2 separate regions of the Homo sapiens genome follow, and region 2 is linked to region 1. Evidence: fine-mapped expression QTL. A gene starts in region 1. The other region holds a variant in brackets. All regions are shown on one strand. Distances are between the middles of the regions.

Evidence for each region. PIP is the estimated chance that this variant, and not a neighbour inherited with it, causes the effect.
Region 2: its variant is the best candidate, but not a certain one, in a credible set for the expression of ST8SIA2 in subcutaneous fat (GTEx, PIP 0.59).

Annotation. Positions count from the first base shown.
Region 1 is chr15:92,390,942-92,396,308 of GRCh38, reverse strand. ST8SIA2 (ST8 alpha-N-acetyl-neuraminide alpha-2,8-sialyltransferase 2) reads right to left here and starts at 2,428. Exons shown (of 6, transcript NM_006011.4): 1 at 2,147-2,428. The coding sequence starts at 2,244.
Region 2 is chr15:92,414,601-92,419,967 of GRCh38, reverse strand. All of the region lies in intron 1 of ST8SIA2 (ST8 alpha-N-acetyl-neuraminide alpha-2,8-sialyltransferase 2), which reads right to left. It also overlaps the pseudogene LOC124903615. Among named protein-coding and RNA genes, the nearest start is that of ST8SIA2, 23 kb to the right of the region's middle. The variant C/T (reference allele first, on the strand shown) is at 2,201.

The DNA.
Region 1 (5,367 bases):
GGGCAAGAGTGCCCATCCCAGTCGAAAGGCATATGCAGTGTTGACCTAAGGCAGCTACATCAGCCTGGGAGAGAGGGTGTCTTAGGCCTGGTCAGGACTGGTCAAGCCAGTGGTCAGCCTGGGACGAGAGGCAAGAGAGGGAAGGAAGATGCCACAGGAGGTGACACATCGTACTTGTTTGACCGTTTTTTCCTAGGATTGGCCCAGCAGAGACAGGATAAAAAGAAGCAGGGAGCACTCAAGTGAGACAAGTCCCCGGGGTGCGTACATATATGGGAACAACCTGATGTGGGGAGCGTAGGCTTCACCGTGCATTTGGCAAGAAAGTGCAACATTATGTGCAAAGTGATCTCCTGATTGCATTTTAAAAATTAAAAGTTCCCAGCATGTGGAAGGTATTTGGTAAGAATTCAGTGAATGGCTGACCTAGGGGTGCCTGGATAAGCACAGCACTTATGTTTTTATAACAGGACAATGGGCAGCGCCGGGCCTTCCCTCTCACATGGGCAAAGGTCAGCAAGTGATCTGAGCCGGGCAGTGCCCACATCCGGAATCAGAAGCCGGAGAGCCTAGAGGAAGGCCCTCCTCACCGCATCTTCCATTACCCCAAGACGTGACTTGCCCGATTTCCTTTCCAATCCACGTTTCTGAGGCGAGCAGCTATGAAAAGTAGCATGTTTATCTCTGCGTGGGAATTGGTGGCACGTTGTGTATTAACTGCGCAGCATTTGTGAAAGTTTTCAGAGCTCTTGGGGAAACCGAGAATGAGAGGAGAAAGAGGCAGGGAGAGGGGTTCTGGAAGCCCAGCGGAGTTCACAGAAGGAATTCCAGGGAGATGGGCAGGGGCAGGGAGAAAATGAGAGCAGGAAGCGGCACTTGTCACAAGTTTTTGTCCTTGGGGCCTCGGCATCCCGCCTGGGCCCAGGACTGGCATCTCCCATTTGAGGGACTGACAGTGTGGCGGACCCTCAACTAGCACAGATAACAAATGAAGTAACAAATGGGACAAAGGAGGGGCGCACGCGGCGCGGGACTCGAGAAGAGCGCCTGGCAGAGCACAAATCCCACAGAAGAAGAGACCTTCTGCCCTCTTTGAGACCTCACCTTCCCCTTGCCCAGGGCCAGGAAGCTCTCCTCGGGCCTCCTCAGAACCCCGGCTGCCTCCCCACCTGTCGTCTACCGCCCTTTGGAGGTTCCGGAGAGGGGCCCGGCCCGGCGAGCCGAAGGCTGCGGGGCGGGGCGCGAGTCTCAGCCCCTGGGACACACAGCCGGTGCGTCCCGCGCCTCAAGTGCGCACTCCAGGAAGTCCGGAGCCGGGAGGATCCGGGCTCGCGGTCCCACCCTACCTCTGGCGAGGTCGGGAGAAAAAAAGCGCCAGATCGCCCGCCTGAGGGCCCAGAAGCCCACCGGGCGGCGGTACAGACTTTCCCGAAATGTCTCCGTCTCCGCGCTGCGAGCGCACAGGAACCCAGGGTCGCCGGGGTTGCCGTGGCTTGGCTGAACGTCCAAAGCCAGGCGAGGGCGGGGGGTCTCAGTCCAGCTATGCGAGCCCTTCTCTAGTGGTGCCAGCTCCTACGCCGGGCTCCCGGGCCGGCGGGAGGCGCGTGTGCCTGTCTGTGTGTGCAGGGGACATTCCGCTTCCCAGTAGCCCATGCAGAACCCCGCCCTCCGCTCCGGCCCCAGGAACCCCTCCCCCAGCTCAGAGATCCCTGCGCGCCCCCTGCCCACTTTGCCAAGGCGAGAAAGCGGCCGTGCTGGAGACAAAGAAACTCCTGCCTCCCTCCACTCTCGGCCCCTCCGCCCGCCCGAGACACTCCCCGGCGCCCTCCCTCGACCCCGGCGACACTGCGCTTGGACACGCCAGGCAGGGGGGCAGGGTGGGCGAGTCCGCTTCCCGACGCGGGCCAGCTGGGGGCTTCCCGTGAACCCCGCCCGGGGACACCCCACAGCAGCCGCGCCCCCACCCTCCTCTCCCCAAACCGTCCCGGGCCCCTGTCGCCGCCACCTTCTGCCAAACCGTCCCCATCTCTCCAGCGGAGCTACAGCGGGGCGCGGCGCACACAAAGGGGGTCGGAGGGTGGAGAGTACAGAAGGAGGGAGAGATCCCGCCAGGGCTCGTGGCACGGGCCTGGGAGCAGCTATTTACCCGATTTCTTCTTCGATCTCTGAGATGTCTGCGAAGATGAGGAAGACCACGAGCAGCGTGAGCGCGGCCAGCATCCAGCTCCGGAACTGCAGCTGCATGGTGGGTTCGCGCCCGCCGGGACCCACGCGGGCCGGCGCGAGGAGCAGGGGCCGGAGGGCGCAGCGGCGGACGCCGGAGCCTCCGCGCGCCGCGCGCAGCTGGGCAGACACCCTGCGCTCCGGACGAGTCCGGGCCGGCGGCGGCAGCGGCAGCGGCAGCGGCAGCGACAGGCAGGGGTTGCTCAGGCGCGGCGAGCCCGCTCGCTCCCTCCCGGCTCCCGCCTGCCCCTCCCTCCCTCCTCTCCCTTCCCCCGCCCCGCGCCCGGCTCCGCGCGCAGTTTGACAGCTTTGCTCCGCGCCTCTGCTCGCCTCCTCCCACCAACTCCAGCGTCCAGGCGCTAGCCTTTGCTTCTCCCGCCTGGCTTTATTCAGCTCCCGAGGGCGCGGGGATGCAGCCGGACGCCACTCCTGGCCTAGAGAGACTGGGCTCTGGCCACCGCGAGCGACCGGGTACGGAGCTGAGCCCAGGGAAGTGCGCGCACCGCCCGGCGCACCCCTCAGGCTGGCAAACGCCCTCCCTCGCCCGCTCTTTGTCCAGCTCCCTCGCCTCCTCGCAAAGTTTTCTCGACACAAAGACCAACACCTGGGGACAGCCCCCAGCGCGCGGCGAGAAGGCGGTTTCAGCCAGGCAGATGTTTCAGCAGTTGATGAATTAGGAGGGGAGGTGGGGGAAGGGGAGGAGAGAAGAAATATCCAAGACAGGCCAACTTCAGTGAAGATGCTGACTACAGTTTGTGGGCGAGGCTCTCAGCCCTCGAGAAACCACTCCCTCCAGGTGCTGATCTTTATCTCCATTTATAGACCCGATACTGGGTCGGGAGAGCTCTCCGAGCTGCCCCCAGATCACGCAGTCCTGGCTGGAACCCTCGGCTAGAACCCCAATGGGAGACTCAGCGCCCGCCTTCCCTCCGCCCTCGCGGTGCTGACGCCGGGTGGCCTTCATCTCCCCAGTTCTTGGACTCTCAATGACCCTAAGATCAATAACCGCGGGAGGCCTGTCTTGATCAAAATGCCTTCTAGAAAAATATGGCTCCCACAAGGGGTAATGCCCCCCACCCTTCCGAATATTGTACACTTTCACAGCCTTAGACAGTTTAAGTCAAATTACATTTCACACCAACCATTGGCCAGGGGTGGGAAGGGCCCCATTAAGTTTTACTGGAATTAGATAATTACCTTTTATTTTCTTTGCACGAATTGGAACAATTCCTGAAATTAAGAAATGTAACTTTCCAGAAATGATCATCTGGTTTATGAAAGGGTCCTTTGGGTTTGAGTGTGGGGAGGAGGAGTCCTGTTGGAGAAGCTACATGGAATGTCCTAAGTGCTGGAAACCACACCCCAGTGAATGGGAGGGGCGTGTCGGCCTTATCCCCTGGACCACTCAGAGGAGTTTGGCGAGGGGCTGGCAGCAGCCAAGTCCCTTCATGGCGCCCCCGGGGATGTAAGAGGGCCTTCTGATTTTCTACCAAAGTACTGCTTGTGCCCAGAGCCCTTCTGCCCCTTCGTGTGTAAGGAGGGGCAGGAGGGAGGCTTCCAAGCCGGGGGCTGCTGCCCTTGTTGACCCTGGGAGCCAGGGCAGGCTCTCCCCTGCAGGAAGAGGTCCCATCACCCAGCCTGGAGAATGGATTAGGGAAGCAGCACAGCGTCAAGGGAGAGCTCTGCCTCACCTCCTTTGAGGAGTGCCAGGAGCAGATGTCTTTTCCCCAGAGGAAGCGTGTACTAATTCCCACCTCAGCGCTTCATTTCCTTCCCATTCCTTGGCGAAGTCAGCGCACCCTGCTCCTTTTACAGTAAGCACTTCGAAAATACCATGTATTTTTCTTGGGGTGAGGTTTTTCTGATGTGGAGAACAATGTTGGACGTCACTCTCCCTGTCTGTTAGAGGCAGGGATGAGACGTCAAAGGAGAGTTTCCCATCAGTGTGGCTGGCACGGGGTCTAACCATCCTTATTTCAAGTTTTCAAAATGCCAAAATCTTTCCCTTTGTCTTGCTTGAAGGGTGGTTTAGGAGGTGTGGAGTGGTTTTTGTCATCATTTTGCCTTGTTTTTCTGAAGGGAATGGTTGGGATACCTGAATAGGGAGAGGAAAGTACAGGATGCGCCTGGTATGCTGCTCTGTATTTGAATCGCTCCTCCACTCACTCCAACGTGCAGCAATATTTAACCTACCTTGTACCAGGCTCTGTGCTAGGAGCTAGAGACACCAAGTGGAGAGAGACACCTCGGGTTTCCTGCCCTCTAGTGGCTCACTGTTCACAAGGGAGACAGACATTCAGGTGTCTAATTATGATAGGGGATTTGAGCTGCAGTAGACCTAAGGTCTCCTGGCTCACTTATAATTGATTAATAAGATCCCCCAAAAGAGCAAGAAGAAACTGACCTTTCTCTCCTCTGTTCTCTGCTTCTCTGCTTCTCTACCTACTGCACTCTTACCATGCAGAACATCATGGAAGTGTTGCCGTGGTACTAAATTCACCAGGTCGGGTCAACCTCATTGCTGCAAGCACAATTACAACAGAGTCTATTTCCATTTCCTGTTAGGTGACCCACGATTACAGCAGAATCTATTTCCGTTTCCTGTTAGGTGGCCCATGTTCTCATCCCAGGCTCAGTCTTCCTTCTTTGCACCCACCAGACCAGAGTCATATGAGTGGACAGGAAACAGTGGAAGCTTTTGTTGAATGGTTCGATTCCATATAGAGAGATCCCTGTAATCAGACCCACAGAGCAATATCTCTCAAGTATACCTGCTCGGAAGTAGAGCTAGCTTCCTCACATAGACGCTGTCCTTGCGATGAGAGTCACTGAAGTGGGATTTTTCTTGGAGGGTGATGGGGGACCCTTGTGATCGTTGACTATAGAATACCTGCTATCTGTGATCACTTAGGTTTGGGTCTCGTTGGGCCAGCTCCTTTAACAAGTGATTGTGTACATACACCACCCGTTGCTGCCTCTGCAAAAATGAGTTTGTTCCTGGAATCTGGAAAGAGGAAGACTGATGAGATTGGTGGAGAATGTCAGACTGGTGATGTGAACTGCCACATGGGCATGTGCTTGGCTTGGCCACCCTGACCCCTCCCCTCCTGCTTACCCCTCTGTTTAAGCAAGTCTCTTTTCCTG
Region 2 (5,367 bases), 24 kb before region 1:
CTTGAACTCAGGAGGCGGAGGTTGCAGTGAGCCGAGATCGCGCCACTGCACTCCAGCCTGGCGACAGAGCGAGACTCTATCTCAAAGAAACAAACAAAGCAACAACAAAAAACAGACTTCTAAGATAATGCTGCATTCTGAAATCCTTAACACTCAAAATCCCAGAAACCAAAGCAATTAAAACCCAGGGCAATACATATATGTATGCTGTTGGTTGAACTGGACCTAGTGAAAAGTTGTGGGCAGAGAGGACTACTTCTCTATGGTGCTCATGGCTATAGAGCCTTTGCTGGTTCCCCCATCCCAATTTTGGAGCTCCCTACTATACAACGAGCCTGGGCCTCTCACCCTGCCTCGGCGTCCTGGACATACCTGCAGAAGGGTGCCCCCTATATTCAGCCACCATTATCTCTATGCGTTCGGCTTCAGCACCCCCTCCCCAGACCATGGCCAGGCACAGGATGCGGGTCCTGCTCATCTCTGCGTTGCTGTGGGAGGGTGTATTTCCCGCACACCCAGTGTGTTCTAGAGAGGACCACTCAATGGAGAGATGAGCCCAAATCACCGAAGATGACCCTCTCCTGTAGAAAACAGGATTCAGAGAAGTCCATATTCCCCTCAGCGATTTCTCTCTCGCCAGCTCTTTGCAAACTTTCTCAGGTCCGTCTACACTAGTTGTCTCTGTTTCCTCACTCCACCCCCTGCTTCTTCTGAGCCTGCCTGGTTTGTGTTCCTGTCCCTGTACCAAGAGAGCTCTGATATGGCCACCTTGCAATGACATTCTTCAGCCCCCAGATGGCTGGAACCGCATCGGTGTTGGATGAGGGTGGCCACTCCCTCCTTCCTGGAGAGGTGAACTGGGGCTCCCTGGGTCTGGTTCCCACCTTCTGCCTGGCTCACACGTGGCCCCGGAGAGACCTTCTCTCTGGGAGTGGGGAGGCAAATGTCCCCTTGGGCACCCCCTGGAGGAAACATGCTGCGGCTAAGAGACATGACAAAGGATCCCAAATGAAGGGATGGGTTAGAGTCCCCAGGGCATCTTTAAGAGCCTTCTGGCCCAGAAAATCCTTTATTTTACGTCATCCCCTCACAACACTTTACGACTTCATTTAAAATGGCATAAAATTCCTCCTTGATCCTACTGTTCCCCTGGCAGAGGTGCCACAATTAAAAATTGTGATTTTTCTCTGTATTTACACCCAACAAGATTTTGTTCAGCATTACTTTCTACAGTTTTTCTATACCGTTTGAATATATACATATATATTTTCAAACTAAACAGCTTCTCTCCCCCTCAATCAAAGTTCACTCTGTAAGAGTGATGCCTCCACCATCCCAAATGATCATTCTTGTCCCAGACAGGACAAAAATTCTCTTGCCTGTCTCTTCCTTAGACATGGATGCAGATTCCAAGACATCAATTAAAAATATTAAGAACTTCATTCCCTTGAGCCCCTCCATGTGCCAGGCACTCTACCGAAGCCTTTTTTTTTTTTTTTTTTTTTGAGGGAGGGTCTCACTCCTGTCGCCCAGACTAGAGTGCAGTGGCGTGATCATGGCTCACCATAGCCTCGACTTCCCGGGCTCAGCTGATTCTCCCACCTCAGCCTCCCAAGTAGCTGAGACTACAGGCGTGTGCCACCATGCCCCATATTTTTTTTTTGTTTGTTATTTTTAGTAGAGTTTGGGTTTTGCCATGTTGCTCAGGTTGGTGTTGATCTCCTGGGCTCAAGTGATCTTCTGGGCTCAGCCTCCCAAACTGCTGGGATTATAGGCGTGAGCCACCATGCCAGGCCCATAGTAACTTTCTTATTTCTGACTTGGTTTTGGAAATAGGACACCCAGGCTCAAAAAGGTTAAGTGATTTGCCCAGGGCCACCCAGCAAGCAAAGCAGCAGAGCAAGGATTTGATTGTGGTCTGCATGAAGCCCAACCTCCTATGCCTGCAGAAAGTGGCCCCCTGCGTCCTGCCCTTCACCTCCTGCCTAAATATATGTCGAGGAGGCCCCAGAGAATTAAGAGGAAGCAAGGGTTACTCAGCAAATAGTTGTGAGATGGCAAGTTAGCTAAGTGGGAAAATATTCAAGCTAGACTCTCCGCTCACATTACACTATAAGGATAAGGCGTGACCCAGACACTCAAAGCGATGTATAGGAGCAGTTTTATATGAAAATTCATGCAATCCGCCATTGCTTAGTTA[C/T]TCAGCGTCCATTATTGACAGTCACTGGGCCTTGCACTGCAGATACATTGTTAACCTCAGATGTCATTTTTCCTTTTCTATTGTAGGAGAAATATACTACACAGAACCTTAACCAAGAGGTTGGCAGCCCTGAAAACTCCTCATTTCATTCATGTCACATGGTATGGATAAATCCATGCTCTTTAAAGAGAAGCAGAACGCCCATCCAGTGTGCCATGCTTTGCTCTTGAGTCTGCCTCGAGGGGACTTGAAAGACCCCTGCCTTCAACCAGGCTTTCTTCCCTCTCTTTTGTTCCCTTCCTGATGTACCCGCATTCAGACACAACATCCCTGTGAATGTCAGCTGCAGCCTCTTCGTGAGAGAATTTCTGGAGGGCACTCAATTTGGGGAGGACTTTGAAGTCACTTTTCTTCTGGGTATTTGATGTGTCCCCTTCCCCACCTGCCTGGTTCTAAGGCAACGGCCACTTCCTCTGCTCCAGCAGCCATGGTGGTTACCACTCAGGAAGCCTTGGTGTCAGATGGAAGGAGGATGGATGGGACCACCGGCAGAGGGGACTGGAGTTCTGGTTCCTGATGGGTTCTAGTTTTGCAGCCCTAGACCTCTCTCAGTTTTGATGTCCTCCTCTGTCAATTGGGGTTCCTGCTGTAGGATTAAAATAAGAAGGACTGGACAGAGGTGGATGTTAGTTGCAGTATTGTTGAAGGTGATGGCTACTGCCCTTTGGAAAGGAACAAACCAGTTGCTGCCTGTGGAGTTTGACAAGTCCCCTTGGAAAAGCTGTCCTTGGGTAAGTTGGTTTTGAAGAGTGCAGTCCATTAGGGAGAAATAAGAATCAGTGGAGGAGAGAAAGTGGAGCGTGCTAGCGTGGTAGAACAGGCACCTGCTGTTGCCCCTGCAGCTTTCATGGATGGAGTGCTGGGGGCCCGTTCAGAGCGGGGCCTGCTGGGGAGTGGACATGTGCATTTTTTTTTCTTCAGCACAAGAGGCACATCCGAAGATCACATGGCCAGGAGGTGGGCAAGGCCTGCCCACAATCCACGGGGCTGTGCAGGACTGAATCCCGACGGGACCCTGGCAGGGAGACCCTTGCAGTATGTCCCCATGTCTCCTGGAGCGGGTCCAACGGCACGTTCTCTCTGCTCTGTCAGTGACCTGAGCATGACCCTGAAGTACCCCTTAGGCCATAGACTTCCCGCCTCCTTCATCCTCTGGCAACACTTTCTCCGGGTTTTCTTTGACCTTCTCTTTCCCAGCCCCTCAGGATGCTGGGGTTGGTGTGAGTGTGCCCTTTGCACGCGCCGGTTTTCCAAACCCTGCTTCCATTGTCCCTCGGTGTCTGATCTGCCTCTGGACACCTCACTCCCGGCTCCAGTCACAGCACAACCTGGCTGCCTCCACACACCTCCCACCCACCTCCACCCCTTCCACCTGTCTCTCCCGGTGTCCTCTCAGGGAATGGCAGCCACCCCTAGTTCATTCAGAACCAGGGTGATGTCCACACTCCCCACTCTCCCTCACCACACCCCCACCCCCCCTTCAAGTGTCCCCCAGCCTCCAGATTTGAGCTCGTCCACCTGAGGGTGAGTGCCAGTGCCCTCATCCCTCTGCCATGAATCTCTCCTGTGCCTCCGTCTTATCTGCGATGTGCAGAGACTGCTGATCTGCCAGCCCTCCCTACACAGACACAGCTTTCCGAAATGCAGTGTGCCACATGCCTCTCTCTCCTTTAAACTCTTCAGTCTCTCTTACCGACCCCTGCAGCTTTCAGAATGAGGTTCAGATCCCTTAGCATGGCACAGAGACCCTTTCTGAACTGCCCCTTCAGCCTCATCTTCTTTTCCACACATCCACCTCCTACCAAGGGGCAGTTTCTGGAATGCGTGACTCAGTTCACAAGCCTGTGTCTTTAAATATCGTGCCCTCTCTCTGGAATCCCTTGTTCTATTTTTCATTTGCTGACTTCAGAGTTTATACACTGCCAGCCCTGGGTCATATCTAGCCTAAACATGTGTTCAGGGGCTTGCATGTTCGACCTTTTTAAAATCAGAGGCTACTGTTTAAAACTCAAGAGACTAGTCGTTATAAAATATCCTCATTTCTGGCTCCTTCTAAACAGTCAGAAGATCTGGTAACAGTGAACCATAGTCATTGCTGGAGTTGGGAAGTATCTGTGTCCTCTTGTTGTGGGGGCGGGGTGGGGGGTGTATATGCTACATTTTTCTACAGCCCACACTACTCCCTACTGTCTTACACTGAGCGTCATCACTTATATCTGTGACTTGCCTGGACCCTAAAGGCATTTGGGTTTAAGATCCCTAGACTCGTCCTATCAATTAGCAAAATTCAGCTCATGTCACTTTCTCCACAAACTTCCCTGACTCAGAAACCCCTCCCGTGCCAGGTACATTAGGACTGCAGGCCCTAAGGAAATGGCAGAGGTGCTAGTTTCTTGCCTCTTCTCAGTCTCAGCTGACCAGATCCTTATTGATAAAATCAAGCAGAAGCAGTAGGAGGAACACCCAGGGGCATGGTCATTTTCTCCCTGTAATGTTCAGAAACAAAAGCTTAGGAGAAGGAAATTCAGGAGTTCTATGCTTCCTAAGACACTTGATGAGGCTGCTTCCTGGGCTTGCTGAGGACCAACAGATAGAATAGGAAGAGGAAGCCAGCCCTGGCCTCTGGAAGGGTAACAGCCCCAGGTGTCTTCAGGCATCAGCCATGACCTCCGTCCCCACTTTTCCCAGCCATGCTCTTTTAGGAGCCCAGGGCTCTGGGGAGGAAAGGGGGCGGAGGAGAGGTTCTGCCTCTTGGGTCCTCCCTGTGAGCCACTTCCTGATTGGCTAGGGGAAAGCCCAAATATGTGTTCAGGGTGGAAGAAATTAACTCCAGCCATGTTGACTTAGGGCATGGGAAATGGCTGCGTCCAACTAATGCCACGATAGCTTGTGGTGGGTACGGGTGGGGTGGTGACGGGTCATAGAGAGGATGGTGGCCCCAGGGATGTGACCAGCTTGATGCTAGAATCAGGTGACTGGATGCAAGCATGAGAAGAACCTTGCTCGGATGGATGGATGTTGAGAAGAGTAATCATTACCAGAGTTAATGCTGCCTGGGCCCTTGCCACATGGCAGTCCCTGCTGTGGATTTACTCTTTTCATCCCTG